4 linked regions of the Homo sapiens genome follow. The protein of the gene in region 2 purifies or fractionates together with the protein of the main gene of each other region. This does not show direct contact. Each region holds a gene or a part of one and is shown on either strand. Other genes may lie near its edges.

Evidence for each region.
Region 1: the proteins of VRTN (region 2) and SALL3 purify together in Homo sapiens (affinity purification with mass spectrometry; one large-scale study listed by BioGRID and IntAct). This does not show direct contact.
Region 3: the proteins of VRTN (region 2) and SALL1 purify together in Homo sapiens (affinity purification with mass spectrometry; one large-scale study listed by BioGRID and IntAct). This does not show direct contact.
Region 4: the proteins of VRTN (region 2) and ZHX2 purify together in Homo sapiens (affinity purification with mass spectrometry; one large-scale study listed by BioGRID and IntAct). This does not show direct contact.

Annotation. Positions count from the first base shown.
Region 1 is NC_000018.10:78,976,104-78,984,848, forward strand, and holds the start of SALL3 (sal-like protein 3), read left to right. Parts: upstream 1-3,714; 5' UTR 3,715-4,171; coding exon 4,172-4,253; intron 4,254-8,745. UniProt on the Homo sapiens protein: Probable transcription factor.
Region 2 is NC_000014.9:74,352,853-74,360,856, forward strand, and holds the end of VRTN (vertnin), read left to right. Parts: intron 1-3,930; 5' UTR 3,931-3,931; coding exon 3,932-6,040; 3' UTR 6,041-7,156; downstream 7,157-8,004. UniProt on the Homo sapiens protein: Acts as a transcription factor that regulates development of thoracic vertebrae.
Region 3 is NC_000016.10:51,131,078-51,138,476, reverse strand, and holds the end of SALL1 (sal-like protein 1), read left to right. Parts: intron 1-924; coding exon 925-1,365; 3' UTR 1,366-2,495; downstream 2,496-7,399. Other genes in the region: uncharacterized protein LOC105371253, read left to right, coding at 3,256-3,301, 3,672-4,276. UniProt on the Homo sapiens protein: Transcriptional repressor involved in organogenesis. Plays an essential role in ureteric bud invasion during kidney development.
Region 4 is NC_000008.11:122,782,027-122,790,030, forward strand, and holds part of ZHX2 (zinc fingers and homeoboxes protein 2), read left to right. Parts: intron 1-859; exon of another isoform or gene 860-1,143; intron 1,144-8,004. UniProt on the Homo sapiens protein: Acts as a transcriptional repressor. Represses the promoter activity of the CDC25C gene stimulated by NFYA.

The sequences.
Region 1 (8,745 bases), on a different chromosome or scaffold from region 2:
TAAAACAAAAGTTGGGGGTAGGGGAGGAAACGGAGAGAGGTGGCCAGAGAATAGAAGAAAGGAACTTTGGGTGGGGGGAGGAATGAAAGAAGACAGAAAATGAAATGAAAGCCCTAATATTTGAAGGTGTTTTTTTTTTTTTGCATTAAGTGGTTGGGGAAAATAAACACTTGTAAACAAAGCATCAAATGCACCTTAGGTAAAACTAGCTTCTGTGAATCTGGGGCCAGGTAGCTTCAATAAACTGTGACTGTGATGGTAAATTAGAACCAACTACTCCACTTCCAATCAATCTTGCAGATAGGCTTTGTTTTATCTGAATGATACCGATTGAACCAAACACCTAATTATATGTTTCACTAATGTAAAATATACAGCATTAATTTGTAAATAATATTAGACAAAATAATAATGTGTCACCTCAAGATGAAAACAACATTGCAAGAGGAAAGACAATTAACAAATTAGATTTAATTACAGGGAAGAAAAGCAACTTTTGTTTTTGCGAGTGTTTAGGTATGACAATATTAATAGACAGTGGTCATGTGGTGACGAGTATGTGTGTGCCCCTCCGAGTCTGCACTACACAGGCACATGGCCCAGCGTCGCTTTAATCTGGGCACGACTAGAGCGCATGTCCTGTCTCATCTGCGAAAATATTCCATAGACACGTTGTCACTTCGCAATAAATCTATGGTTGCAACTCAGGCTTAAAATGCAAATGCTTTTATTAAAAGTTGTCGCACTGAATAAGAGCAATTAAAGAAAAGTTTCTGATCTGAGTATAGAGAAGGAAGAAAGGCGGGAACAAGCCAGTCAAGAAGTCGCACGCCTTTTGTTTTCTACCTTTGCTTTCTTAAAAAATTGATCTTGTTCACTTGTCAATTTTTAAAAGGGTGCACCGCAGAAATTACTCGTGCGCACCATTTCCGCTGTGGGGGCATTCGTACAAGTTTCCGCTGCACACACAGCCTCCCGGGCCCTCTCCTCCAAGGCTCTGCCGGATCTTCCAACGAAATCCCAGAGCAGCCTGCGCTGGGGAGCCCGCAAGTCTCTCCAGATCTCTGCACCCCGCACCGCCCGGAATCTGGGACGGCGCCCACGCAGGGCTGGGCCAAGGGCAGAGCTCGCACCCTGCCTTCACGCCCGGTTCACTTGCGTCCACGAAAGCAGCGTGCCGGCCTCCTCCATCTTCCCACTCGCGCAACGCACGGCGACCCGCGCGACACTTCTGCAATCTGAAGGCTTGCTTCTTACAAATAAAGGGCCAGAGTCTCACACTTGCCTTCGTTGGAGGGACTTAGAAGATCCTCCCCACGTCCACACCTTGTAGGAAATGCAAAACAGATCGATGAAATTAAACAGTTGCATTTGGAAGCCCCAGAAAGACCTAAAGACATCGTGCCGGTTTGTTGGAGAGAGGGTTGCGGGACAGGGGGAGCGGGCCTTACGCAACAGAAAAGGTGGGCACAGCGCGCTCAAAATGACCCAGTGAGGAGTTGGTGCCGCCGGGCCAGAGGCTGCGAGTCCAGCTGGCTCTGGACTTGCTCCGCAGGCGTCAGACGCCGTGGGAACCTGTGTCTGCTTCTTCTCTCCAAAGTGTATCGGTTAAAAAAAAATAAAAGTAGTAGTAGTAGTAGTGGTAAGGAAAAAAATAAAAATAAAAAGGAGACACAATTAACCAGGTCATAAAAGCTAGGGCACCTTCGACCAGGGCTCTGGCCCTCCAGCGATCGTTTTGCGTTGTTTCTCTTCTCAAAAGTAGTCTCAGACCCCTGCCTTTCCGCTGCAGCTCTGCGACTTCCCCAAACTCCTTAATCCTGTAAATTCTGCAAGAAACTCCCATCCTGCAAGCTGCTTTTCCCCCTCCCCCCTGCGTTCCTTTTTTCTCTCCCCACCCGCGCCGCCTCTCTATGCCCCTCTCTTCTCAGAAAAATTCCTGCCCCCCGCGCGCCCCAAAGCCCGGGCTGCAAACTTTTCCCCGCCGGGCGCCTCTGCGCCAGATGCCGGAGCGTCTCCACAAAGCCTGAGCATCTGCACAAGTTCGCAGCCTAACTGCGGGATAAAGACGTTTCCCCCGTAGCTTAACTAGAAAAGCGCCATCGATGGGTGTGTTAAACGGGATAACTAGAGATTTCAAACACCTTTTATTTGCCTGTCTTGAAAAAAAAATCTAAATGAATACGCCCGCTACCAAAAGGCAAAATAAAACCAACCTTAAGGGTTTTTGTTGTTTTTTTTTTTTTTCAAAAGTGGCGATAGGGACTGTTTGGACCTGACTCCAACCTGCGCCCTCCCTTCCTCTATGACCCTCCTGCGCTTTTCCTGGAACCCAAAGCTCTGACTTCGTCAAACTTACACAATTAAAGGCAGGCGGAAGAACGCGGGCTGGGAAGCAAGCGGGAAGATTCTAGAATGGAAGGGAGCCCGCCGAGCGCCGCGAGCCGCGCCAGGCCGGGTCCGATGGAGCAGGCGGGGATTCCTCCCCCAGGCGGACCCCCGCCACCAGCCCTGCCGGGAGCTCGCGGCCTGCGGAGCGCCCGGGCTGGCCGCTCACCGCCCGCTTCCCCCAGCGAACGACTCGGGGAAGCTCCAGGAGGCCATCTGTGCTGACGGTTCACACCAGACAGGACCACTTGCAAGGACAAAAATAAGAAATTTAGGAAACGAAAAAAGACGTACTGGGGCGAGGGGCGCGGGCGCGGCGACGACGGGGCCGGGGGCACATCCTGGCGGCCGCTCGGGGAGAGAGGACACGCGCGGGAAGGAGCGCGGCGGGTGCACGGCCGCGGGTGGGAGTACGCGCCTGTGCGCGCGGGGCGAGGGCGAGGGCGCGTGCGTGTGACCGCGGGGAGGGGGCGGGCGCGTGTGCGGGGAGCGCGCCGCGCCAGGGGCCGAGTGTGTGGGGCCGATCCAGAAGTGCGCAGCCCCCTCACCTGGCCCCCGTGTCATCCCCGAAATCCCGGGAAAGGGTGGGCCGCGCGCGGGAGTTTGGTGGAGTTGGAACTTTCGGTCGCGCTCGCTGCCCACTCCGCTGGCGCCCGGTGGCCCGTGGTGAAGGGGGACTAGGGTGGGGAACACCGGGGCCCTGCGGTCCCCTCCCTTTCCTGTATTTAAGAAGCCGCCGGCGGCGCAGAGGCCCAGGCGGGCTGGCGCGGGGGCGAGGCGGCCCGGTGGCAGCAGCGGGCGGGGCGGGCGCTCCGGAGTCGGTGGGGCCCGCGGGTTGGGGGGCGGGGAGAGGGGGGAGTGGAAGGGAGGGGGAACGCAGGGGAGGGAGAGGAGGGGAGGAGCCGCGCGGCCCGCGCCGCTTCCGAACCGGAAAGTTGGTCTTGCCGAAGTCCTGCCACCCCGGCGTGCGCACTCCGCTCCGCTCCGGCCGCGAGCCTCCGAGCCCGGCCGGCCGCCGGGGGAAGCCCGCGGAGGGGACGCGGGGCCGGGCGAGAAGGTCCGGAGAGCGGGGGGCACCTGAGCCCGGGCGGGCCCGCCGCGCTGAGCGGCGCTGAGAGCCGCGGCGGAGCAGCGAAGGCGGCCGGCCGACCCCGCGCGCCCGGAACAGGAGGCGCGGCGCCCGAGCGGCCCGGGCGAGACAAAGGCGCCGGGTCGGAGCCCTGCCCGCGGCCGCTCGCTCCGGGAGGGGCCGCCCGGCGGCGGCGGCGGGGGGGGCGCGGGCGGCGGCGCAGACACTCTATAAAGGGGCGAGCCCGGCGCGCCGGCGGAGACGGCGCCGCGCGGACGCCGCCAAAGTTTGCTGCCTGCGCCCTGCGGAGGGACGGCCACCGCGGCCCGCGCCGCACCCGGGCCCCGCCACAGCCGCACCCGGGGCGGCCGAGGAGCGCGGCGCCGGAGCCCGCGATGTGAGGCGGCGCCGGGCAGCGCGCGCCCCGGTCCCGAGGCGCCGCGGCCCCCTCCTCGTCGGCGCGGCCGCTAATTGCGAGCGCGGCCTCATTTGCATAGGCCGCCGGAGTCCGCTGGAGCCCGGCCAATCGGCGCGGCCCTCCGCTAATGGCCATGCATTATTCACCAGCCTAATTGCTCAGCCCCATGCGCGGCCCGCGCAGCCGCCGCCGCCCCGCGCCCCGCGCCGCGCGCCCGCCAGGCCGCCCCGCGCCGTCCCCGCCGGCCGCCCCGCTGATGCCGCTGCCCCGCGCGGGGCCCGAGCGCCGCTAGCAGCATGTCTCGGCGCAAGCAGGCCAAGCCCCAGCACCTCAAGTCGGACGAGGAGCTGCTGCCGCCTGACGGGGCTCCCGAGCACGGTGAGGGCCGGGGCTGCGGGGTGGCCGGGGGGTCTGGGGCTGCCCGTCCGGGCTGGGGAAGCGCGTGCGGCGGGAGCGGATGCGCGCGTCCGGGAGCGGGAGAAAGTTCCCTGCTTCCTGCGGGCAAGCGTCCGCCCCGCGCCAGGCCGGCCGCGGGGCCCCGGGTACTTCGCCGGAGCGCGCGCGGCCGCCGAGAGAGTTGTGGGCGAAGTAAACTTGGCTCCTCTCCTCGGAGTCGGGGAGCTGCCCGCGAAGGGCGCCGAGGCCGCGGCCGGCTCGAGGACGGCTCGGAGGCCGGGGCGGGAGGGAGTCCACGGTGCCTCCGCCGCCGCGCCGCCCCCCAGGGTCTCTGCGCCAGGACGCTGAGGCCGGCGGCGGCGGGGAAGGCGACCGCAGCCCACCTACCGCTGGACGCGGGTTGGGGACCCCGCCGCCCGGCCAGCTTTGTTCGGGGGCCCGCGGCCCCTCCCGGGCCCCCGCACCGCCTCGGGTGACCCGCGGTGTCCCAGCGCGTTGACGCAGCCTGTGATCCCTCGCGAGGCGAGGAGAAGGTCGGGGGCTTGGCTCTGCCTAATGGCCGCCCGGGGAATTAAGCTGGGGGTGAGCGCAGCGGCGGCGGCCTGGGCCTGGCCCCTGCTCGCGGCGTGTTTCCGGGGCGTTCGTTGCAGCGTCTGCGCGGGCCTTTTCTCTCCCGTCTTTTTGGATCCGCCGAGGCCGGGCGCTGGAGACCTCGGCTTTGCAGTCATTTCGCTGGTAGGAGCGTCCTCTTCGAAACATCCAAGAGCAAAGGGCAGGCGCCGCGAAAGTTAAGAGACTGGCAAAGGGCTGGACTTCCCAGAGTGGCGCCTTAGCCCCGCAAAGTTTGGGGCGCCCCCACCCCCTTCGTCGAGTCAAAACCTCGGCCGGCGGCGCCCGGGCTTCGGCGCGCCCCGCGGGGCCCCCAGGGCGCCAGGAAAGAGGGCCGAGGAGGGGCGACCCCACGACCCCGAGCCCGCAGCACAGCTCGCAGTAAAATAATTTGCTCCTTAAAAAAACAGGCAGGCCAACTTTTATGATTGACCTGTTATAAGTTGTTGGAGGCAGATGGTGATCTTTTTACTCTGAGAATGAGACTGTCTGCGAAAAGGAAACGGGGCGGAAGAGTTTCCCACACAGTGGAGTAAAGTTTGACAAAGCGGGTAGACACCCATGTCGGATGAGAACGAGAGAGCATGCTTATGACGCGGCTGGAGAATTAATGAATTAAATAAAATTAGTGAGCTCGCTGGGGTCTTTTTGTTGCGGTGGAGGTAAGGGAGTCTTATCTGTGTAGCCAAGTCAGCCAAGATGAGAACAGGCGATATGCTAAAAAGAAACGCTTGCATATGGTGGGTAGATTAAGGACAAAGAATCTTTTTGTCATGGAAATGGATTTTTTTTTGTTTTGTTTACTTCATCACATAGAATTTCTCACACTTGGTTTGTTTTGTATCGCCCTCAATGACTACATGATCAAATGAATGGATTTATTTCTGCCGAATGAGAAAGACAGTCTTTCCTTCAAAAGAACTACATTGCGTCCCAGTGAGGAATTTTAAAGCTTTATTATTGTGGCTCCTGAATGGCTTAAAATCGGCTTTCACAGCCGCCCCAAAATGCAACAATGTAAATACTTCTCAGCTTTGTAGGGTCGGTATCAAAATGTGCGATGTCTCCTTTTATTAAAGCATATTTTAATTAATAGAGTAAACCCCCTGGTATTTAACAATTAACAAGCTGAGGCACTGCTATTCATTTTTAATTTCACTTCAGAAATGTGAGCATGCTGAACTTAATAGTGTAAACGTGTGGAGGGCTATATCGCCTATATTTGAAAGCCTAAGATGGGATAAATTATTCACAAGTTCTACTTTGAATCCCTCTTGTTGCTGCTCGAATTTATTTAGAGATGCAAAATATTCAGGTTTTTTACCCGTGGTAGAATTGAAGTTCTTGTCAAGCCTGTGTTTTTCACAGCATCCAGAATTGTAATCCAGACGTTGCCACAGTTCCTGGTCATGTTTTGCAAGAGGCCCAAAATACCCTGTGTGGGGCCGAGTCTTGGTCGAGCAGCTCACATGCTTGTTTGAGAGAGTTTAGGCAAACTATTTTTTTTAAGTTCTTTCTCATTTAATTATATTCGAAGCAGCTTGTTCAAGGAGCATAACAGACACTCTGTTCCGTGTTAAGTCAAGGAATGCCCCATTTGTGTATTACTCGGTCGCACTCAGCATCGTTCCTAAGATAACTAAGTAAAAATTATAAAAAGGTAAATGGGTGTGGAAACCAAATTACTCCAACCTGAGTCAGATCTCCTCAAAATTTTAATTTTGTTAAATGCAATGGAAATAAACAGACCGTGCCGGAAGTTGCAAGTGAGCTCAGTTAGTTTAGTGTTTTAGAAACGAGGTAAATAATTCCTTTGTATCACTCGGGGAGTGACATATTAATTAAAGCAGCAGGTCCATCTACATGCAGTAAAATGGAAAGCTACTGATAATGTCCTGCAGAACAAATATTCTATGCAAAAATGTTTAGTATAATGGGGGACAGAGATGCACTCACATTAATTTACAGCACAAAGCCTGTATCTCTTAAAAAAGAATTATGATTTATTTTTGAAGCAATGAAAAGATTCTATACAAAAATAACTGGTGCTACCCAAACCTTACCACTACAGGAATGAAACATGACGTGTCTAGAATGAGAAAAAGTAAGGATAATTTATGTAAAGTTCTAAAGTCATGCTTTTGTTAAAAAAAAAAATTAAGTCATTGAGACATTCCTAACAGAAATTGCTTTTTAAAATTACTTACTTGCAAATGATCTCATTCCTATTTTAGAAGAAAGGCGCTGCAGCTTTAGGATCCAGTGAACTTTGCGCCACTAGTAATCCTGTGAGCCAGCTGAATATTTTTGTTCTAAGAAAAATTAATTAAAACTTCCAATGACAGTTATATGCCCACTAAGAACTTTAAAAGATACAATACTGCTATTCTTTATTGTATAAAATATAATTTAAGAAAGATGTATTTTGTTGTTGTTAGAAAATATGTATTTAAGAAGGAACAAAAGGGTATTATAATTTAAAACCATTTACCATCCTGTATTTTGTTTGTTAGCACTAATTGCTTCAAAGTGTGTTTTTTTTTCTGCCAACTTAGAAGTATATGGCTGTCTTAAAAATCCTTTTAAATGTGTTGAGCATGTGATTTAAGAATTTACCAGTGGTTTTCACAGACTGTGTTTGAATTAAGGGAAAGAAGCTCGGCCACCAGTGCTTGGCGCAGGATCTTTTTCTTTTATCTGTATATGCATGGTTTGCCCTCAGTGCTCCCCCAGCACACTACACACATTTACAATTCAGCATACCAAAAGGAACAATGCAGGAGCTACTTTCTAACATTCACAGGCAGATTGCTTTCTCTGAAACATGAAAGGTAAAAAGTAAGTAACCGGGTTGGGTGAGGGGAGAGGAAAAGAAGACTTTGCCAACATTTCTTTTAAAAACAACATTAAAAAACTTAACCTATTTAAAAGTGCACGTTTCTGTGATCAACAAAAAAGCATACCAATTAATTCCCAGCTTGCAGAGAGAGAGAGCTGATTATGTAACAGTTCTCGAATTTTATGTGCAGTACGTTTTCAACTTCCATGGCATATGCATTATCCAATATTTTTAGATCTGTTGTTCAAAGCCAGAAAAAGGTATGGAGTAACAGCAGGAATTACTTAGCAAGCTGATTCTTTTTTGTATACAAGATGATGGTAAAAGTGGGTCAAATTTCATTTCCAACTGCAATCTCTAAGAAGCTGTACCATTCATTTCCAGGTAGCCCTAAGAATATTTTCTTTTGGGGGGAATTCAGCAAAAGCACAACCAGGGTTTCTATTCTGTGTGCTGACCATTAGTTGGAATTTAGCATTCTTAAAAGTATTGGCACCAGCTTTTATTTAAGTACAATAAAAATCTTTTTCACTTCTAATGAGGATATGCACCATCTTTCAGTGCTGCAAGATAGTTTCAAGAAGCATAACTTTTAAATATAACAGGAAGGATTTTTTGTTTTTATTAGTTTTATTTTCCTACATGATTTGTTCAGTAGTTGCCAGAATAAGACCAACATGTTTTAGTCTTGGAAGGACAGGTTTGTAATTACAGCATACCTTAATTATTACACATTTCATACACAATGAAACAAACTGTATGTAAAAATTGAGCAATTTAATGTTCCAAGTAAACTTTTATTTAAAAAAAAAAACCTGTCTAGGGTTATTTCTCATGTAATTTCGACACATTTATGATTTAAAATGCAGCTAACTGATTTCTAAGCAAACCAGGCCAGTCACATGCCAGAAAGTATAAAATATTAATTGTAATAAAATAATGGAATGGTTTCTATGTTAGAGATGAAGATTGATTTGTTTCTTAATTAAAGGGAGGCGTTCTCCAGACTGAGACGGTGTCCACCAA
Region 2 (8,004 bases):
CCCTCCCCTAATGTAAAAAGTGTCTATGAAGGAATACCACTCTGCTTTGCAACTGAACAATAAAAACATACCAATAATTGAGATGATTAGTTTTGTGTTAAAAGGTGGTTAATGGTTTGAACAGGAGATGAATCACAGACCCTAAAGAGCATCTGGGGCCAGGCATGGTGGCTCACGCCTGTAATCCCAGCACTTTGGGAGGCCAAGGTGGGTGGATCACCTGAGGTCAGGAGTTTGAGACCATGAGACCACCCTGTCGGACATGGTGAAACCCCATCTCTACAACATAAGCTGGGCGTGGTGGCATGTGCCTACAGTCCTAGTTACTCTGGAGGTTGAGGCAGGAGAATCGCTTGAACCCTGGGGGCGGAGGTTGTAGTGAGCAAAGAATGAGCCACTGTACCCCAGCCTGGGTGATAGAGTGAGATTCTGTCTCAAAAAAAAAGAAAAAAAGTGTTTGGTTTCAACTAACTTGTATTGTGACCTTGGGCAAATTAGGTTAACTTCAGTTGCCTCAGTTTCCTCACCTGTAAATTGGGGATAATGGTAGTACTTAAAGTATTAGTGTCAGGATTAGGACAGTGCATGGCAAATAGTAAATGCTCAGTAAATCATAGTTATTAGATCTTTGTGCAGTGAATAGATTGTTGCTACCCCTTTGAAAGGCTGTTTCTGGGGCAGCACTTCTCAAACTTTTTGGTTTCAGGACTCCTGTACGGTCTGCAGACCCTGAAAACCTTTTGTTTATATAGGTTATATCTACCAGTGTATATTGTACACAAAATTAAAAATAAGAAATAAATTTTAAAAAGCCTGTTATACAGTAACAAATAATCATTTTTATGAGAAGTGACATTTCCAGAGCAAAAAAACTACTTTTTTTTTTTTGAGATGGAGTCTCACTCTGTCGTCCAGGCTGGACTGCAGTGGCGTGATCTTGGCTCACTGTAAGCTCCGCCTCCCGGGTTCACGCCATTCTCCTGCCTCAGCCTCCCGAGTAGCTGGGACTAGAGGCGCCCGCCAGCGTGCCCGGCTAATTTTTTGTATTTTTAGTGGAGACGGGCTTTCACCATGCTAGCCAGGATGGATTTTTGTATTTTTAGTAGAGACAGAGTTTCACCATGTTAGCCAGGCTGGTCTTGAACTCCCGACCTCAAGTGATCTGCCTGCCTCGGCCTATCTTCTTTTAAACCAGATACTATGGAGACTTGGAAAAATGTTAAATAATGTCCGAGAGCACATTATTCTACATTTTTACATTTTACATTTTTCTGTATCTCCATAGTATTTGGTTTAAAAGAAGATGAGTACTTTCTCATATCTTTCTATATTCAATCTGTTTTGATATATTGTTTTGGTGGAAGCATCTGAAGAAAATCTAACTTCATCAGATATATAGATGGAAAAAGGAGGAGTATTTTGATCACTTTTTCAGTGGATTTTTTTGATATTATACCAAAACTTTACAAGTAGTAGCTTCTCAAAGCTTAGTTATAATGTGGAATTTGAAACCATATCCATGAACTTTTTGTACCCTGTTATATTAAAATCCATGGGTCTTTTTTTTTTTTGAGATGGAGTCTCGCTCTGTCCCCAGGGTGGAGTGCAGTGATGCAATCTTGGCTCACTGCAGCCTCTGCCTCCCGGGTTCAAGCAATTCTCCTGCCTCAGCCTCCTGAGTAGCTGGGACCACAGGCATGTGCTGCCACTCCTGGCTAATTTTTGTATTTTTAGTAGAGACGGGGTTTCACCACATTGGCCAGGATGGTCTCGATCTCCTGAGCTCGTGGTCCGCCCGTGTCGGCCTCCCAAAGTGCTGGGATTACAGGTGTGAGCCACCACACCCAGCCCCATGGGTTTCTTTTATACTTTGAATGATTCTTCTACAAGTGCATGACTTTGTAACAGCACCCATTGGCTATTTGGAAAATGTTCACTGAGTGATGTAGATCTTTAGTGGAAACAATTGACAATTCATTATACAGCATAAAAAATTATATTTGTTAGGGCTGGGCGTGACGGCTCACACCTGTAATCCCAGCACTTTGGGAACCTGAGGCGGGCAGATCATTTGAGGTCAGGAGTTTGAGACCAGCCTGGCCAACATGGTGAAACCCCGTCTCTACTAAAATTACAAAAATTAGCTGGGCATGGTGGCATGCGCCTGTAATCCCAGCTACTCGGGTGGCTGAGGCAGGCAAATCTCTTGAACCCGGGAGGTAGAGGTTGCAGCCAGTTGAGATTGCGCCCCTGCACTCCAGCCTGGGTGACAGAACGAGACTCAGTCTCAAAAAAAAAAAAAAAAAAAATTGTCACCACTGATCTCATCAGAAAAATTGAGATTTTCAGATGGAAGCTGATAAGTTTTTATGGGCAGCAAATAGTTGTTTCCCTTGAAATTACAGTCTCACTTCATTCATTTTTGAGAAAATATCTGCCAAATATATCCAAATCTGAATGACCAGTGTCTATTAGACTTTCTTTCAAGTAAAAATTGTATATCATGCTAAAGGGAGCTAATTTATCAGAAAAGCAGAACAATCATCCAATGGAGACATTCATCATACCTCGGGTTGCAGCAAGCGTGTTATAAGTATGCCCCATTTGATTACACCCAGTATTGAAAACGACATGTACTTAAGGATAACGGTTTTCTTTCTTTTCTTTAAAAAAAAAATAGCATCATTTATTTATTTATTTGAGACAGAGTCTCGGTCTGTCACCCATGCTTGAGCACAGTGGCATGATCTCTACTCAGTGCGGCCTCCACCTCCCAAGTTCAAGTGATTCTCGTGCCTCAGCCTCCTGAGTAGCTGAGATTACAGGTGCATTCCACCATGCCTGGCTAACTTTTTTTTTTGTATTTTTAGTAGCAATGGGGTTTCACTATGTTGGCCAGGCTGGCCTCAAACTCCTGACCTTAAGTGATCTGCCTGCCTCAGCCTCCCAAAGTGCATGAGCCACTGCACCTGGCCTCTCTCTTTTTTTTTTTTTCTGAGACAGAGTCTCATTCCTGTCACCCTGGCTGGAGTGCAGTGGTGCGAGCATTGCTCACTGCAGCCTCGGATTCCCAGGCTCAGATGATCCTCCTGCCTCAGCCTCCCAAGTAGCCGGGACTATAGGCACATGCCACTGTGCCCAGCTAATTTTTGTATTTTTTGTAGAGATGGGGTTTTGCCATGTTGCTCAGGCTGGTCTTGAACTCCTGGACTCAAGCAGTCCACCCACCTCAGCCTCCCAAAGTGCTAAGATTACAGGCATGAGCCACCACGCCCAGCCAACATCTCTTTATTGTCTCATTTATGCCCAGAACAACTCAAGCATATTTTATTAATTTTTTTTTCCCTTTTGGAGACAGTCTCACTTTGTTGCCCAGGCTGGAGTGCAGTGGCTCTAACTCAGCTCACTGCAACCTCTGCCTCCTGGGTTTAAGTGATTCTTCTGCCCTAGCCTCCAGAGTAGCTGGGATTACAGGCTCTTGCCACTATGCCTGGCAAATTTTTGTATTTTTAGTAGAGATGGGGTTTCACCATGTTGGCCAGGCTGGTCTCGAACTCCTGCCCTCAAGTGATTCATCTGCCTTGGCCTCCCAAAGTGCTAGGATTACAGGTGTAAGCCACCGTGCCTGGCCTATAAAGCAGATTTTAACACACCATTCCCATTTTATAGAAAATGAACAGAAGCATAGAGAGGTTAAGTGATCCAAGGTGACCAAGCTTATGTCAGAGCCAGGATTCAAAGCCAGGTTCTAGAGACCACACTTTTCCTCAGTACCATTCAGTGATGAACCAATCCCGTCTGTTGTGGGAGGACGGGAGCAGATAGACATTACCTTTTGGGAGAAAGTGCAGGAGTGGACAGGGCACCTTTGCTAGTCATCATCTGGGCACTTCGACCTGACTACTGCCCCTTTATCTTTTGCCCTGGCAGGATGACTTCTCGGAACCAGCTGGTGCAGAAGGTGCTGCAGGAGCTGCAGGAAGCAGTGGAGTGCGAAGGCCTGGAGGGTCTCATAGGTGCTTCCTTGGAGGCCAAGCAGGTCCTGTCTTCCTTCACTCTCCCCACCTGCCGGGAGGGAGGCCCTGGCCTCCAGGTGCTGGAAGTGGACTCGGTGGCCCTGAGCCTGTATCCAGAAGATGCTCCACGGAACATGCTGCCGCTGGTGTGCAAGGGGGAGGGCAGCCTGCTGTTCGAGGCGGCCAGCATGCTGCTGTGGGGTGACGCAGGCCTCAGCCTGGAGCTGCGGGCCCGCACCGTGGTAGAGATGCTGCTGCACAGACACTACTACCTCCAGGGCATGATCGACTCCAAAGTGATGCTGCAGGCCGTGCGCTACTCCCTATGCTCTGAGGAGTCCCCTGAGATGACCAGCTTGCCCCCCGCCACGCTGGAGGCCATCTTCGATGCCGACGTCAAGGCCTCCTGTTTCCCCAGCAGCTTCTCCAACGTGTGGCACTTGTATGCTCTCGCCTCTGTCCTCCAGCGGAACATCTACTCCATCTACCCCATGCGCAACCTCAAGATCCGGCCCTACTTCAACCGTGTCATCCGGCCCCGCCGCTGCGACCACGTGCCCTCCACGCTGCACATCATGTGGGCTGGCCAGCCCCTCACCAGCCACTTCTTCCGCCACCAGTACTTTGCCCCTGTGGTGGGGCTGGAAGAGGTGGAGGCTGAAGGTGCCCCTGGCGTGGCCCCAGCTCTTCCAGCCCTGGCCCCACTCTCATCGCCGGCCAAGACCCTGGAGCTGCTCAACCGTGAACCTGGCCTCAGCTACTCTCACCTCTGTGAGCGCTACAGCGTCACCAAAAGCACCTTCTACCGCTGGCGGCGGCAGTCCCAGGAGCACCGGCAGAAGGTTGCTGCCCGCTTCTCCGCCAAGCACTTCCTGCAGGACAGCTTCCACCGGGGGGGCGTCGTGCCACTTCAGCAGTTCCTCCAGCGGTTCCCGGAGATCTCCCGCTCAACCTACTATGCCTGGAAGCATGAGCTGCTGGGCTCTGGCACCTGCCCGGCCTTGCCCCCCAGGGAGGTGCTGGGCATGGAGGAGCTAGAGAAGCTGCCGGAGGAGCAGGTGGCTGAGGAGGAGCTGGAGTGCTCCGCACTGGCGGTGTCAAGCCCTGGAATGGTCTTAATGCAGCGGGCCAAGTTGTACCTGGAGCATTGCATCTCCCTGAACACACTGGTACCCTATCGCTGCTTCAAACGCAGGTTCCCTGGCATCTCACGGTCCACTTATTATAATTGGCGGCGAAAGGCCCTCCGGAGGAACCCCAGCTTCAAGCCGGCACCAGCCCTCTCTGCTGCTGGGACTCCCCAGCTAGCATCTGTTGGGGAAGGGGCTGTAATTCCTTGGAAGAGTGAGGCGGAAGAGGGGGCAGGGAATGCCACAGGTGAGGACCCTCCCGCCCCCGGGGAGCTCCTGCCACTAAGGATGCCCCTGTCCCGTTGGCAGAGGCGTCTGCGCAGGGCTGCCCGCAGGCAGGTGCTGAGTGGGCATCTCCCTTTCTGCCGCTTCCGCCTCCGCTACCCCAGCCTGTCACCTTCTGCCTTTTGGGTCTGGAAGAGTCTTGCTCGGGGTTGGCCCAGAGGCCTGTCCAAACTTCAGGTGCCGGTCCCCACCTTGGGCAAAGGGGGGCAGGAGGCTGAGGAGAAGCAGGAGAAGGAGGCTGGCAGGGATGTGACAGCTGTGATGGCCCCACCTGTGGGGGCTTCTTCAGAAGATGTAGAGGGAGGGCCTTCCAGAGAGGGGGCCCTGCAGGAGGGGGCCACAGCCCAGGGCCAGCCCCACAGTGGGCCCTTGCTGAGCCAACCTGTGGTGGCAGCAGCGGGTGGCAGGGATGGCCGGATGCTGGTGATGGACATGATCGCTACCACGAAGTTCAAGGCCCAGGCCAAGCTGTTCTTGCAGAAGCGCTTCCAGTCCAAGAGCTTTCCCTCCTACAAGGAGTTCAGTGCCCTCTTTCCCCTCACTGCCCGCTCCACATACTACATGTGGAAGCGAGCCCTCTATGACGGCCTGACCCTGGTAGATGGCTGACAGGGAGGTACAAAAGGGGCTGGGAAGAAGGGGGACCAGTTTGGAGAGGGTCAGGGACCTGAGCTGACCCCAGGCTTGGCCAGGATGTCCTTTGCTCTGGGTCCCACAGTGTCTACCCTAAGTCCAAGGGTATATTTGTGTTATTTTCTGGCTCCAGGACAGAGAATGCCAGAAATCAGCCATCTGGTCTCCCGTAGGAAACTGTGGGACCAGAGATATCCTCTTTCGTTGTTTGCTGGTCATATTTTTACTGTTATGATTTAGTTTTTGGTTTTGATTTGAGTGGGTTGGTTGGCCCCCTTGCTGGAGTTGGAAGCCGTATGTATGTCAGGGGGTTTAGAGGGGGGTTGGTTAGCTAGAGCTGCTTTCAGCTTTTCCTGGAGACAAAAGGAGTGTTATAGCATGATCATCGGTCCCACTGGGCAGAACGTTATCTTCAGTTTCTTTTGGGGGTTGGCATCCTCTTTACTCAGTTGTTTCCCAAAGGAACATTAGGCTCGAATATGGGGGCCAGGTGTGGTGGCTTATGCCTGTAATCCTAGCGCTTTGGGAGGCCAAGGCAGGAGGATCACTTGAGGCTAGGAGTTAGAGACCACCCTGGGCAATGTAGTGAGACCTCATCTCTTAGAAAAAAAAAAAGAAAGAAAATCAAATGTAGAGCTGATCAGCAGCTTGTGCCTGGCATCCCCAAGGGAGAAGGTGCCAGGTCAGCAGGAGCAGCAGCAGGGATGTATAGAAAGAACCACAGCTGGCCTCTAAAGGATGGCACTGAGGCACCGGAGATCTTGAGGCACTGGAGATCACTGAGGGGCTGGCCTGTCCCCTGCAAGGAGTGTGGGACCAGGTGGGGCAAGGCTGGGAGATGCAGGCTCTGTTTGCAGATTATGGCCCAGAGTCTCTGCTTGTGGGTGCTTGATCCACCTGCTGGGACCCTGCAGTCCTCGGCCAGCCTGGCTGTCAGTTGGGGATTCCACCTTTCTGCTGAGCGTCTTCTCGGAGCTGGAGGCCCATCTTCAGTGAGAGATCACAAAGCGGCCAGGCAGGTGGGAGACTGAATTTGCCTTGTTCGAGAGTAACGTTTGAAAACCAAAGAAATAAAGTGATGCAGTGCCCACAGTGCTTGGTCTCTGGTATTTGTTTTGCCAGGATGTGATTGCCCATTCCCATGCTCCCCTTTGGCTTAAGGGGACAAGAGTGACCTTCTCTTTCTCGATGGGATGCACTCAGGTCTAGAGCTTGGGGGATGAAAAGAGTTATTCTGGGGACTCTGAATTGGATCTAGAAGTGACCTTGGGTGCTTTTCCAGCTGAAGGGTGGGGCTCTGGCTACCTGGAAATGCCCTCCCTCCCATGGGAGAAACCTGGCGTTCCCAGGTGGGGAAGGGGTTGCTGCCACCACAGGTTGGCTCGACAGGGGCCCACTGTGAGGCTGGCCCTGGGCCATGGAGGCCAGGCCAGCACCTGGAGTCAAGTCTGTGCCAGACATTCTATTTAGTCCTTGCAATGTGCTCGGGCAGGTAGGCCCAGTCCTGTGACTGGGACACTCTAAGGACACAGCCTTAGAGTGGCTAATTTGCATGCTCCCTCTGTCTGGTGGGACAAGGGTGAGGGCAGCCTGCTGTAATGAGCAGCAGCAGGGATGTAATGGGAGCTTTAAGCCCAGGCCTTTGCCTGTTTGGTGAGGGAGGAATCATTAGGGAAGAAGTTCCCGTAGGCCCTTCTTCTGTCTGGGTTTCCTGCAGTGGCTGGCATCCTTGTGCTCCTGGGGAGTCATTCTTGCCTCTGCTTTTTATTCACCCCACATCCAATCCATCAGCAAGTCCTATTGACGCTGACTCCAAATGATACCCAGAACCCTCTCTCCACTCTACTGCCATTGTCTCTCCTGGCCCACATCACAGCTTCCTACCCCATCTCCCTGCTTCCCTGCTTCCACTCTTGCCCCTATACCCCTATACAACCCAT
Region 3 (7,399 bases), on a different chromosome or scaffold from region 2:
CTCACTGAATGTCAGTGCACATTGAATAATTTGGTACCTAAGCGAAGCAGCGGCCTCTCTCTGTTGTCTCGCTAAGTGCACCAAATGAATTGCTTTACCTACCAAGAAAGCCTAGCGTTGCCATGGGGTATTGATTAAAGACCTCCACGTGGCCTGTGTGCTGCCCGTATCACTTAATAATTAGGGTTCTCGGCGTATGTATCTATTTTTCATAACTATGCAGTCCAGCATGGTTTGTTTGTCTAAAAACAATAACGTCACTGCTCTGCTAATGGGTATTATGATAATTGATTATACAGCATTTCCTACTGATATGTGTTGGAAATAAAGCAAATATGCTTAAGTTCTAGAGCAACAGTTGAGTGCTCTTAGTGTGTACATTTTTCTGTTGACAGAGTATTTCTCTGGAGATTGCTCCCAGTAATGTGAGATGAATAATTACTTTCTGGCTTTTCTCTCCATACGCAGGCCCTCCAATGGGCAATCAGGGAGGGATACCTTCTCCCCATCTGAAAAGGACATTTATAGGGTAAAGGGTGTCAGATACAATACTTACCATTGCAATGAGAGTGGACCTAACAATTCTAACCCTGAAAGGAGCTATCCGCCACTGCCTGGCTTGCTTGAGGCCATTATAAGCTAAATATGGTTAATAAAAAAAGAGTAAGTAAGGCATCCTTGCCTTGGAAGAGGGGAGACAGCCCAGGGCTGCAGAGAGTGAACACGTTATTACTAGACAGGAGGAATGGATGGTTCCTGTTGCCTTCACTGTCTGTCACATGATGAGAATAGACATTTAGGCCACTTGCTTTGTGGACATTTGGGATATGAGTTGAGACAGATTCAGCTATTAAGCTTCTCTCCCCCTCCTCTTTTTTTTCTCTCTCTCTCTCTGTCTCTCTGCCTGCCCTCCCCATATCTCAGGTACACATGGGCACTCACATGTGGAATAGCACCCCTGCACGACGGGGTCGGCGGCTCTCTGTGGATGGCCCCATGACATTTCTAGGAGGCAATCCCGTCAAGTTCCCAGAAATGTTCCAGAAGGATTTGGCGGCAAGATCAGGAAGTGGGGATCCTTCCAGCTTCTGGAATCAGTATGCAGCAGCGCTCTCCAACGGGCTGGCGATGAAGGCCAACGAGATCTCCGTCATTCAGAACGGTGGCATCCCTCCAATTCCTGGAAGCCTCGGCAGTGGGAACAGCTCACCTGTTAGTGGGCTGACGGGAAACCTGGAGAGGCTCCAGAACTCAGAGCCCAATGCTCCCCTGGCCGGCCTGGAGAAAATGGCAAGCAGTGAGAACGGAACCAACTTCCGCTTCACCCGCTTCGTGGAGGACAGCAAGGAGATCGTCACGAGTTAAAGCAGCTCGGGCTGGAGACATAGCATTCATTCCTGTTCAGAATGCGACCTATGGTGGCCTCCTACTCCTTGCCCCCCACCCCGCCCCGCCCCTTCCTTCTGTTCCCCAGATCTATGAACTACAACATTATGAAGACATTCTTTTGTACCTTGTTCAACTTTAGAGTTCTAAGAAAGCTTATTTATTAGCGATATAACCTTGCTTTGCAAACAGAATGCAAGCGTTAACTTTGGTCTTCTGTATTTTGGACTAAATACTAATTGACTAGAGTGCTGTAAACTTGCTGTAACATTTATGGCAATTGCAAGTTGCCCTGCTAGGCAGTTGTAATCTGGCATTAACTTATTTTCTATATCCAGTTTAATATGAATCTGGTGTTGATGCAATGCCTCAGTGATGCATTAGATCTCTAATAAAGTCTGTATATACATGTACACTTTGATCCTGCTGGAAAATTTTATCAGCAAACACATTGTCTAATCTTTCAAAACAGATTTAAGGAAAGGACTGAAAGTACAGACTGAACAGTGTGGTTCTTTGAAAGGTTTGGTTTTTTAATTTTTATTCTAAAATTCAACCTTTTTTTTTGTCGATTTAACCATTTCCATTTTGAACTGCTATTTGTATTGTGCTTTTTACTTGAGTCGTCTTCAATGTTAATAAGTTTCTGTACAGTAATAAGCACGCAGAATTCTTTAGAGAAAAAGAAAACAAGCGTTGTTTTGGTAGTTGAAACTGAGACGTAACATTTTGCCTTGTAGGTATATTCACGATAGAAAATGTGTGCTGGAATTTCACAATGCTGCTAAGTATAGCATCTTGAACAACCTTCAGTGGAGAAAATGTAGATGCTCTTGTATATACAATAAGAAATATCACTTTCATTCAAATGTACATATGTTCCTTACAAGAGCAAATGCTTCTTCTTGATCAAGAGAGCAGGTATAGTGTTTGTTTATTTTGTCTTAGGTATGGAAGAAAAAAATTGGACTGTTACATGCACTTTCTTGGAAAGTTGAAAGGAAAGGGGGGGTCCAATTTCTTTAACATTTAATACTTACTAACAACAGAGATACTGTAATTTTACTCAAGTAATCAAATACATTTTTTTTGCAACAGATAAAACAAAATACTGTGTCTGTGTTTTTAGAGTGCATTTCCATTTAGCCAGGCCCCAAATGCGTTTTAACATTTCCCCAGGCAGCAGTCAATTGTGTATGTGAGTGTGTATCCCTCTTTAAATGAGGAATTGTAAAAGGCATAACAAACGGCTTTGCATGGGCCTGCGTTTTCTTTTATTTTGAAATTTGGAGGCCCTAGATATTTTCCCAGTATCTATGATTTATTTAGGAATGGATTTTATAGACTCCACTCGCTACCCACCCCACCCCCAAGAAAAGCAAAACAACGAAATGACATAAAAAGATGTTGTTGGAGGTTTTAACCCAACAGGTAAGTTTCTTTTAAGCAAGATATTTATGCCGATTTAGATTTCACTTTTACTATTCTGGTTTTATTTCACTTAATGCAGTCACGTTTTTTCAGGCAGCTGAGAGCCACATTGCTGGGGAGTTCCTGATGCTGCGGGGTTATATAATCTGACTTAAACTGGGCCTCAACCCAGAGAGGTCAACATGTTCTTTATTTAATTGGTCTTTTAGGCATTTAAACGCACATGCATATTTGAAAGAAAAAGTCTATTAGAAAGGTTATGTAGAGTCAGCTTGAATATTTCATCAAGCAAATTCAAATGGATTCTTCCCCTCTCCCTGTTGTTCTGGGGCGGAGGGGGGAACAGGCTTTCTTCCTCCTGAGCACTGTTTTGAGGTGAGCAAACGGACTGAAGGGAAGCTGTGTCCAGAGGGGTCGCCGATTTTTTTTTTTTTTTTAATGTTTCAGGGAGCTGGTGAACCGCGCATCCGGCGGTTGTGCCCAGGTAAGGTAGAAAGCGTCGGGCCGCTTCCTGCAGAAGTTTCCACCAGGGCGCGGGCCACTCGGGTCCGCACTCCCCCGACCCTGTCGTTAGACTCTGTGCCGAGGGGGCGCCCTCAACCCCTGCTCGGCCTCCGGGTCCGGGTCCGGGTCCGGGTCCGGCGTTCCAGAAGGTGGGCGCTGACCTGGGCCGGGAGAGTTCAGGGGAGGGGGTGGGAGCCCCCAAAGCCAGAGAGGGCGGCGGGGGGGGCAGGGGAGAGGGTTGCGCGACGTCGTGATTGATGCTGAGAATCACCCCGAAGGCTTGGCACCCGAACATTTAGAGGGACAGATTTCTCGCTCTCCTCTCTCCTGTCCCGTCCCCTCCGCTCCAGGAGTGACATTTTTTCCCCAAGAGTGGGGACACGGATTGAAGGCCGGAGTTCCAGCCAGAACTCTGGTTCTGCGCGGGCCAGATGGAGCTGTTTCCGTTGCACAGACGACGTCCACAACTTCCCATCGCTGGGCGTGGCGAGGAGGGGCTGCCCCGGGCTGCGCGCCCTTTACGCCCAGGGACAGGGCCTGGGGACATCTGAGGGAAGTGATCCGGGGGGCTGCCGCCCACCGAGAGGGGCAGGCTTCGACAGCGCCACCCTGCCGCACATGCCCGGCGCCTCGCCGGCCCTCTCCAAAGGTGTCCAGGGGCTGCGCCGCGACACTTTCCACCGAGCGTCTGCCAGCAGCTGGACCCCGCTCTCCAATGGCCGCCGCCGCCAAGTCCCCGGGGCTCCCGCACTCCGGGCCGGGCGCGAAGGTCACCGCCCTGCACCACCTTGGGCTGCGCGTCCATTTCCAAGAGGCAGGCAGTGGGGAGAGGGGAGCGGGGGCGCTGTGTTCCCTTTCCCTCTCATCACTAACCTCCCACCTTCCAGCGGTTTCTGAAAGTGAGTTAAGGGGAGCAAAAGTCACTTCTCTTTCCGGAGCCATCAGAAGAGTTTAGGAAAAGGTCAGAGGGTCTCTCTGTCTCTCCGTCTCTTTCTCTCCAACCCCCTCCTCTCTCTCTCTCTCTCTCTTTTTCTCTCTCTGTGTCTCCTTTTGTCCCTGCCTATCCATTTATTGATTGACTATCTTTCTAATCTATTGATTATTACCTGCCCATTCATTCCCCTTTCCATCCATTTCCAAAATAAGAAATCGCCCTCTGCCCTGCTTCTCCTCCCAGTGTGAAAAATACACTCAGCCTTTGGGCTCGGCCCGCAGAACAGAACTGGATTTACATTTACAAAGCAACAGGGTTGAGGTGAAGGCAGCTGACGGGCGCGCACCCCCTCCTCACCTACTCCCCGACCCTTGCCCCGCTACGCCTCACTAGAGGTGCCTCGTGGTGGTATTGAAATCACCGAGAACCGAATTCACTGAATTAAGGAAGGATTGTTGCTGCAACTAAGTTCACAGAATTGTTTAGCTAAAAATATTCACTTTGGTGACAGTTTCCCCAGCTTTTTTTTTTAAAAAGGGGGGAATTGTAAAAATACAGAACAGCCCAGAGAAGAATTTAAGAAACGCTTTGTGTCTATCACTCAAAATTTACAAACGTTAGGAATTTGTAGTTTATTCGAGGTTTTTTGTTGTTTTTGTTCCCCCCACCCCTCCCCAGGAACTGCGTTTCCTGTTCTTCCTCTCTGCCTGGGTAGCTGTCATTCTCTCATTCTCTCTATCTTTCCTTCCTTATATTCCGTCGTGCTTTTTCTTTCTTCCTTCTCCCGTCATCTCCACTACCCTCCCTTTTCCACCCACCCCCCCGCCACGGGCTTCCTTCTTCCTGGAAAATATACTTGGAAGAGCAGTTTGGTGATTGACAGGGACCTGGGGAGGGGAAAAAAAGAGAGAGAGAACCAATGACAAACCCAAGCTGCTCGAGATGACCCCTCCCTCCCTCCCTCCCCCCCCACCCCCACCCCCGGTCTGGGTTGGGGAAGGGTGGGTAGCGTAAGGGAGGGGTCCTGCAGATCAGCTGGAGATACCTGAAGCTGGCTTTGCGCTTTGAGTTTTTACATCCCAATCTTCACAGGCCAGGTCTATTCAAATGGCTTTTTAGGGAGTGGAGGGAGGGCATTTTTTTTTTTTAATTACAAGAAAAAAATGTCTTCAAACAGAAAATTCTTAATGATTTGCAGTTGACATAAATTTCTAGCAGTAGATTATTTGCTTATTGTTTTTGGCATGTCGTGAATGTCAAGAATGAGAGAGCAAAAAAAAAAAAAAAAGCTCCTACTCTGTTAAAACTTAGCAGTCCTGTTAGAAAAATAAAGCAATGGATTATTTGCTAGGAGTTACACACTCCATCCCAAATGAAACAAATGTCAGAGTGGGTAACAAAGTGGAAAAAAGTATAAAGTGAATTTCAAAGGGCTCCACAGTAAAGCGCAATCTGAGATTCACAGAAAAGTAGAGACGGATAAGACAGGAATTAGGTCATCTCGTCCAGACCCCAGGAAATATGTCTAGATCAAAGCCTGCTCTGTTAGAATAAACAAAACAGGACCCATTGGGCCCTACCAATATTTTCATCTCAGTGCTAAGAGCTGCTAATCTAACCAGCTCTATTTGATGAAAGGGAGTAAAAATTACAACTGTAAAAATGACGACGTAATAAATGTCCTCTCAACTCTTAGAGGAAGATAAAGATTTAGATTTGAGCTAAAAAGTAACAAGATCCAGGCCCAGATCAACACAAACTTCCTGGAATTTTAGCACTAAGTAAATTATCTAATCCTAGCCATTGTTCCCTCCCTGCTGCCACCCCTCACCCCCACCCATCCCGTGTACCCCATGCAATTGAGTATGCCAGATGATTTACATTAAAAATTTGTTAAATTTTAACTGCAGTCTGAGGACATTGCAGGGGGCCTTTGGGGTTCCCTTCTTTTGCATTCCTTAAAGACCCACCGGTTTTCTGTCCCCCACCAACCCCAATGTGGCCTGCCCCCCTGGCAGTTGTTGGGGTAGCAGGCTGGACTTCTTTGTGTGGATGCTTTGTTTAAGCCCAGTCTTAAAGTTTGGGCTCTTTTTCCACCGTGAAGGGCAGATGGACAGAGGCCTGGCACGTGTGTCCCATCAGCCTGGCTTGGGGTCCACACAGTTCGGCAGCTCATTGATATTTTCGCAGCTAAGCTGAAGTACTGTGTAAGTACTGGGTAAGACTTTCACCGCCGACTTGATGGCCTTCAACCAATGACCAGGGAACATTCGATAGATAGAAACATCTACAAAAAAGGACAGGAAATCCCAGAGAAGGAAAATTGGACCAGGCTAAATCCCGGGTTGTAGTTCCTTACTGAGCCTGGCTTCCTCTTAACTGTTTAAACATAGGACTTGGCTCCTCTCATGTTTCTGTGTCCATCTGAGCTCAAGTTGAACAAAGACTCATCGGCCGCATGTCAACCTGGCTCCAGTGCTTTCTGAAGCTAGGGACGATGACAACGGGGGTGGCAAGTGTGACTGGCCTTTCCGAACGCCACCAGGAACAGACTGTTTTCTGTGTGTGGCCCCTGGCTGCTCACCTCGCCAAGGGCAATTCCAGGATCAGATTTTTACTTACATTCTGCGGAGGGCTTTGAAGACAAGTGAAACTGCATTGGAGGCCACACACAAGTCGATCCTTCCTTATAAGACCCAGAGTGGGACCTAGTCCAGCTGCACCAGGCATAGCTGAATCCTGACACAGTGCAGTCTGTTAGGTCATGGATGCCTGGAGACCAGGAGGTCACATCATCTTCTCATCCCAACTACATTCAGGATGAGGTCCTGGAAGTCACCTGGAAACAAGGGTAAACATGTAAACATGGTAGACCCCACTCCTGAGATTAGGGCCAGACAAAACATAACTATACTAATCAGCCTGCAGACCTGCTTCTGTATTCAGAATTTGGAATTCTCCATGTCTCATCTTGCTTGTCATCGTAACAATCCACTTAACAGATGACAAAACTAAGGCCCTGAGAGCAGAGAAGGAACATTTGGACACCAGGAGACCTGGAGCTATCACTAGCCTGAATGCCAACTTTGGGCATTTGGCAATCATTGCCTGATCAATGGTACCATTCCCCAAACTGTACCATGA
Region 4 (8,004 bases), on a different chromosome or scaffold from region 2:
CAGCCCAACTTTCCCACCGCCGCCGTCGCCGCCGCGGCTCCCGAAAATGTGTTGTTAATGGGACTTGGCCGGGTTTGTGATTGGAAGGGGGGTACGGAAGGGGGGGGGTGTGCAGGCTCTTTTTGCGGGTGGGAGGAAATGAGCGGATACAGAGAGGGAAGAAGATTTTTTTTTTAAGAGTTTTGATTACAAGTTTGGATAAATGGGAGCCAGAGCGAGGAGGAGGAGGAGGAGGAGGAAAAACATGTCTACGTTTCCCTATGTCGACATAAGCCACAAAAAAATATGGCGTCCGCTTTCGACAGGGCGTTACGTAGACCCGACTGTTTTTATTTATTTATTTCGTGGCCGTCTCCCTCCCTTCTTGGCCAAACTGCGGCGCTTTGTGCAAACGGGGCAGGTCCCGCGGGGACTCCACCGGGACGTGGCCCCGTCTCCGCGCGTTTTGGCAGGCGGGGGGCTGCGTGTGTCTGCTCCCCTCCCTCCCCCTCTCCCCTCGCTCCCCTCTCCCGGTGACGATTCGCCGTAATGTGGTGGCAGGAAGCATGACGCCGTGGGCCGAGGCTGCCTCTGCTCTCGTCGCTCCCGGCGGCTGCAGGCAGCGGGCGCGCAGCGCGGGCGGCAGCCGAGCTACCTGGCGGGGGCAGGGCCGGAGCGCGGCGCTGTCCTCACCCCCGCTCAGGTGCAGGGGGAGTCCGCGCGGGGCGGGGGGCCGAGGGCGGCCGCGGGACCCCCGGCCCTGCTGTCCGCTGCCAGCTGGCCGGAGCCTCTGCCAGCCCGAGCCCACGTTCGCCCCCCTGAACGGCAGCTGGCGCTTTTCGTCTGCCCCACAAGAGGTTAATCTTTGTTGGTGTTGCAGCTTCTTTGTGGCTTCCCCAGGACTTGTATCCTCGGCTTTGCAAACTTGCCCTTTTCCCAGCCGCTTTGCAGGAGGCTGCGGAGACGAAGATGAGCGGAAAGTTGGAAACCAGCAGGCATCACAGGACGGTCCCTTTGGCCTCGTAGCTGTGCTGAGCCTGGGAGGCGGAGGAGGAGGTGGAGGCGGCGGCGGAGGAGGGTTTGTCAGGCTGGGGAGAAAACTTGATGAGGAAGCCAAATTGTGATTTGTTCAGGTTTCCACCTGATTGATAGTCTTCAAAGCCAGTAGGTCTCTACCTTCAACTGTTTCGCGGTGGCCTTTTGTTTGTCTGGGGCGTGGAGAAGGAGAGAAGTCGATGAATAAGGACTTTCCCTCGACCCCTCCCCTTTTAAAGAGTGGTTGCTCAGCTTGGCCCCCTGGGACACTGCCTTTTAGGCCCTGGAGTTCTTCCCCAACCTGCTCTCTGATCACTTTCTCTCTGTTAAGTTACCAGATCTCCAGGTCTCAGGCAGGCCCCGATGAGCAGAATGGAGTTAGAGGAGAGGATTCCTTCCCCCAGCACTTCTTGAATTGCCCAGACCTCCCACAATTACCCTCTTAAAACCACACACACACACACTTACTCACTCTCTCCTTTATATATGGCAGAAATTAATGCCTGTAGAAGTGAAGGGGGTGAGGTTCTGAGAGCTCTTCAAGATTTGAGTCAAAAGGTGATTTTCTGTTTATGAGGGCAGCGAGTTTAAGCAGTTCACTCCCAGGGCAGTAATGTCAAAAAGCGTTTGGATGACGACCAAGTGGAATAAATATCTTGTAAAATGGCATGTTTAATAGTAAAAATAGATTAATGGAGCTGTCAAGTGGTTGAATGGGACTACCATAAAGGTTTAAGTTTAAAGGGAAAGTTATGTAAAGCTGTATACACAGCTTCTTTTAAGGCCAGAAGGGAAAAAATCTACAAGTAAGGCTGAAATGTGTCACTGACAATAATTGGACTGGTGATGTGTGGAAATATCATCGCTGTTTAAATGCTCTGCTCCGCGATTGTTCTCTTGCGCACTTGTACCTTTCCTTCTAGCCAGGTTTGCTGTCAGCTAAAGGATGCACCTGAAGATTGTGCTTCAGGGGAAAATGCAAGAAACCAAGATTCTGGGGCACATCAGCTATCTCAACTAATGTCCATTTGAAGGGGGAAAACACCACTGTTTGTTGGCACTGAAGAAAGGGTATTCCTGTGATGTAAGTGCAGTGTATCTTGACATGCTGAAAGGTGGCCCCACCCGGCGTTTCTCATCCACATCAGGACCATGTGATTTGGTGGGATGCTGTACACTTATCAAAAATAATCATGGCAATGTTTGATAACAGTTTCTAACACTGTTATGGTGTGTGAGGCACAATGCTGTATATTTTACGTGCTTTATCATTTAATTCTCACCACAATCCTGTGAGCTAAGTACTACTATTATCCTCCGTTTATGGTTGAGGAAACAGAGGCTCCAAGAGGTGAAGAAACTTGCCTGAGCGACACAGCAAAAAGCAAATCCAGGCCTAACTTCATAGCCTTAACCAGTCCATTGTAGCAGCATTCAGATACACGACGTCACAGTTAGAATAAAAAAGTAAAGGGTCAGGTCCAGCAGAAAAGAGGGAACAGTAGCCACTGTCCTGAGGTCCGAACTTCAGAATTTACCTGGATTTTATTCCTTTATTCATTTATTTAGCAACTGTGTGTTGATTTATTTATTCATTCAGCAACTATAATGTTCATTATACTAATAAGAACCCATAGCCATTAAGCATTTTTGTATGCCAGGCACTATCCCAAGTGCTTATGACTAGACTATTTTGTCTTCATGACAACTCTGATGTAAGTACTCTCATTCTCTCCTTTTTCTAGATGAGGAGGCACAAGCCCAGGTAAGTTAGCTAACTTGCCCAAGTCCAAACAGCTAGTAAGCGGAGTGGCAGCCCCCAGAACACACACACTCTGCTGTTGCAATGCAGAGCGCATAACCAGATGTATGGAAATGCTGGGGAGACAGAGCCCCCCTGGCAGAAACGCAAAGCACTGCATGCTCCAGACATTATGGAGATGCTGGTGGGATACACACCCCCTGCCCTCTAGGAGTTTGAGCCGACTGCGGGGAAGCACTCATTAAACCAAATCAAGCAGGCTTAGATAAGTGCTATGATTGAGAAAACTAACCACTGTGGAAGCACAAGGAAAGGCATGATTCTTCTGCTCTGAGGGGATCACAGAGGATCTCCTAGAGGTGGGAGCAGCTGAACTGCCCCATGAATGAAGAGGAACAATGTCCAGAGGTGTAGCCAATATCACTGCATTCGGCTGCTAGCAGCAGACTCTTGACTACCAGTGACTTAACCAGATAGGGACTTTTTTGTGTCAGACAACAACGGGGTGAGGGGTAAAGGGAGATGATGCCTCAGCTGTACCATTGGGAACCCAGACTACTTCTTTCTACACTGCCATGCTTAGAGTGGAGGCCTTTGGCCTTAGGTTTATCATCTCATGGTAGGAAAGTGGCTGCTACGTCTCTAGGCCTCAGGTTTGCATTCCAAGAAAGAGAAAAAAGGATGAATGAGTCTCAAAGAGCTTTTACCCAGTACAGCTTCACTGCTATATCTGGGAAGGGGCACCCCTCTCAGGGACTTCTGTCTTTAGCTCATTGACCAGAGCTGTGCCACATGGTGACTACTGCCAGGGAAGAGCAGTCAAGTATTTTTAGTTGGACCCATTGCTGTCATGAGCAAATTGGGGTTCAACTTGTAAGGCAGACGGGGTGAAAGGAGGAATGGTTGTTGAGTTGGCAGGGAGGGCATGTGCCGCCTGAGAAAGAAGGGCCCTGGGAGCAGTGGACAGGTACCCTGGGGAGGTGGAGAGGGGGATGCAGGGAAGGCTGTGCAAAGAGATGATGCCAGGCTTGGGGGTGCACATGGAGGAGGCTGGCTTTTAATCTCTAGGTACTAGGGAGCTATGGCAGGTTTCTGAAGGTCACGTGTTTGGGGAAGGGAAGACTAAGACTGACAGCAGAGTACCTTGTGCAGACAAACGAGCTTAGTTCTTATTTGCAATAAAACGAGTTCTGCAAAGTTTCAGGCCAGGGAACAGTTTTGCCTCAGGGCAAAGAGAAGACCATGTACAATAAAGAAGTGAGGGATGATTTGCTTTTAGGTCCTGTCAATAAGAATCCAAACTTAACCTGATGTGAGTCAGCTGTTACAGGGAGGCAATCAGCTCTCCTTTCTGGATAATTCAGTTAGTGGGACTGGAAAAGCTGGAAGGGGGTGCCATTTACTCTCCAAACACTACACTTGCCTTTTTCCTGACCTTTGGGTCTCCTGGGCCCTAGCTGCAGCTCCACCACTCATCAGCAGGATACCTTTGGCCATGACCTTCACCATTGCTTTAAATCAAGGAGATGATATCAGAGCATGTCAGAGGCCTTCCCAGCACCAGATTCCCCAGGCTAGATTCCTCCAGCAAGGGCCAGCCTCTCTGATTCTCTTTGCTCAGGGTATTACCTTTATGACTTTGAGCTGTTACTTACCTCAATTTTCTTATCTCTGAAATGGAGATCACTTTAGTAGCTGCTGTATGAGTTGTTAGGAAACTTAAGAAAGTTGTAAAAAGGCTTAGCACACACCTCACATGTGAACTGTGCTCAACAAATCACCGTCATCACTGCAACCACCTCAAGAAAGTGACTTTATTGTAAATTTGAGGTGCCAAGTAATTAGCATGTGTGGATTTCATCATCAATCCCAGGACCCTGACTGTCCCATCTCATTGCCATTCCCCTTCTGCCTCCCCCCACCCCCAGTACACACATGCACTCATTTTGTGGCAAGTCCGTACCACACATCAGGTACCACACGTACGGTACCAGCACATGAGGTACCGTAATGTGCTGTGTCATAGCCACATCCAGACAGCACATCTCAGGAAGGATGCTTGGCTGTGCACATGCCCCTTTGGTAGACAATAAGGTAGACATTATTTTCTGTATTGACAAGATTATTTCATTTTGAACTGAAAAAACTCGTGATTCCCCTCCCCCACCCTTCTCTAATGCCCCCACCCTACATTGAGCAGGTTGTGATTTTAAGAACATCCACCCACAGTCTGCTTCCTGTTCTTACACTTGTAATCATGCAGTTAAGAGGGGTTGATTGGCAGTGGTGTGTGTGTGTGTGTGTGTGTGTGTAAAACAGACCCCATGCAGAAAAACAGTCCTGACAACAGTATATCAATTTCCACCCAAACTTTAAAATGGAATAGAGACACCAGGGCCAGAACCTGTCTTCTTGCTGATACCTCTCTTTCCCCCCTGGTAGACAATATTTACCTGTTAAAAGTCACAGTTCACACCCTTTCTTCCTCTTTCTCTCCCCCTTACTCCCTAACATTAGAAACACTTAGTGGAGATTAATCTTGTTACACATTGTTTCACTGCAATGGTATTTAACACATAACAGAATCTGCAGTGAATGAAATTCTTGTGCTATTGATCCATGAGGGGTCAATATGAAGGAATGTGAGCCAGGCATTCACTGTGGTGTAAGAGATTTGTGATATATTTTAGGGGTGCACATGTCTAGTTTGGGATGGAATAGCGGGAAGCCCACGCTGAGTTTATCTTTCAGAGAGAAATCAGCAAAATCCTGGGGACCATTTCCTGTCAAGTTCAGGGTCAGGGAATAGATTCATGGATCTCTGGGGCTTCGGGGAGTAGCCAAATTGAGTTAGCTCTTTCTTTGGGAGGAAATCTTCCCTGTTGGGGGCCCAGGGGCCACTTGTGAGAGACAGAGAAGGAGCCTGCTATTGAGGCAGAGAGGAAGAGGGTTATGAATGAGAGTTCCTGGGCTACAGCCCCTCCTTGTCCTGGTTGGATGCCTGCAACTGCAGCTGCTGGGCTCAAAAACATCTGCAGAAAACTGAGGAAGGACCACAAGTCTAAGTTAAGGAGGAAGTGGCAGGCACTCATGCATGCCTGCATATGCTGTGCAGAGGTGACCGTTTAAACCAGTGTTGCAGAAACACTCAAGAAAAACACTCCTCAGCAGGCCTGACATTTATGCCCCCACAGCCATCTCATCCCCCACAGCCTGGTTCACTCTGGCTGGTGAAACTGAGCAAATACAAAGCTCCCTACACAACCAGATGCACAAAGCTCCCCACATACCCAGACACAGCACAAGCACATGGTGTTCACCATGTTAAGAACAGCAATAGCCACAGAAAAAGTAAGCACCTACTATGTGCTAGGCACTCTGCTAAACACTTTCCCTTCACAATGTCATTTAATCTGACCCTGAGGAGTAAATTGAGAGTGGCAGTGTAATTCCACTTAAAAGGTAGGAAAAATGGGCTAGCTTGATGGCTCACGCCTGTAATCCCAGCACTTTGGGAGGCCGAGGCAGGTGGATCGCTTGAGCTCAGGAATTCAAGGCCAGCCTGGACAACATGGTGAAACCCCATCTCTACAAAAAATTTAAAAAACTAAAAAATGAACTGGGCGTGGTGACACACACCTGTAGTCCCAGCTACTTGGGAGGCTAAGGCAGGAGGATCGCTTGAGCCCGGGAGGTCAAGGCTGCAGTAAGCCATGATCACGTCACTGCACTCCAGCCTGAGTGAGAGAGCAAGACTCTGTCTCAAAATAATAAAAAATAAAAAAAGATAGGAAACGAAAGCTCAGAGGGGTTAAGTACTTATTCAAGGTCACAGAAAGAAGGTAGCAAAGACAGAATTCAAACTCAGCTCAGTCTGATTCCAGAGCTTTCTGTTATTGTACGTAAGTCTTCTGGAAGCCTGGCCCACATCAGCCTGGAAGAGGTGTGAGGAGAAGGGACGGTTTTAGATCGTGCTTTGGGATAGTCTGATTGCTTTTCTGATAAGGGGCATAGGGGTGCATGCCTTCCTGCATGAGTGTGTGTGCACGTGTGCGTATGAGAGTTTAGTCAAAACAGGAGAGAATTACAAATCCGCCTCTGTTATCTACAGCTCCCCCAAACCACCCCTCCTCAAAAAGAGGCCATTGTAAAGCCTCTATCAGTGTCTCCAAGAGAACATTCTCCAGGGGCATTGCGCCCTCCGCCCTCTCCTCCTCGGATCTGGAGAGAAGGAATCCCCGTGGGCTGAAAGCTGCAAAGTTGGAGCCGGAGGAGAATCTGGGTGCTCCTTTCAGGATGCAGAGTGGCCTCGCCAGCCAATGGGGGAAGGGGGTGGAGGAAGCAGGCGGAGGGAGGGTGGAGAATGGCTGTGTTGCTGTTTTTATACAATAAAAGAGGATCATTGTAATTGGGAGCCTTTGAATCATAACACGTCTGCCTATGGCTCTCCCCAGCTGCAGAGCCATTTAGTTAAATAGCACACAGAAAACTCCTTTCAGCTGATATTACGTTCCCGCTGTTCTTAAAATATGAGACTGGGCTGAATTGCTCTAAGGACAAAGCCATCTCAGGCGCCACCCCACCAGCCCCTGGGTGTACCCAGAACCCCCCAGGGATCTCCATAGCCTGTGGAGGAGGAAGTTTAGAACTTATTTTCATTTGCATGGCACCCTGTCTTTTTGAAGATAGATTAAGATATTTGCACACAGCCTGGTCAGAGCTGGATGTCATGGTGAAGTTTTTTGTGGCAGTGGTGGTCCGGAGGGAGTAGGGAGAGGCCAGGAGGCCAGGAGGCCAGCACTGGCGGTGATGGGGTGTGCCTTTGCTTTTGTGTAGGGGAGGTAAAGAGGTAGATAATGCAGGGATGTGAACTGACAGATAGAAGCTGGAGAAAGAGACTGCCCTCTGGCCAAGACATTAAGGGGAAAAGATGGGTTCCAGGCAGGAGAGGATTGAAGCGCCAGCTCTCCTCTAAGCTCTCCTAATAGAGAACTCTGCGATTTCATTATCTTGTAGAACTGCCTGTTACTTTCTTCTGGGGAACTTTGTGTTAGAGAATTGATTCTGAGTATGTGGTGAATTTCTGCCAGAGACCCATAGTCCAGGAGAGCCCGAAGACTTCACGTTGTTTCCAAGAACCAGGGCTCTTGGGCAGAAAGAGCCACAGAACGGAAACGGTCTTGATCACTTCACAGTTAATGGTAAACATTCCAAAGAACGGAGAACTT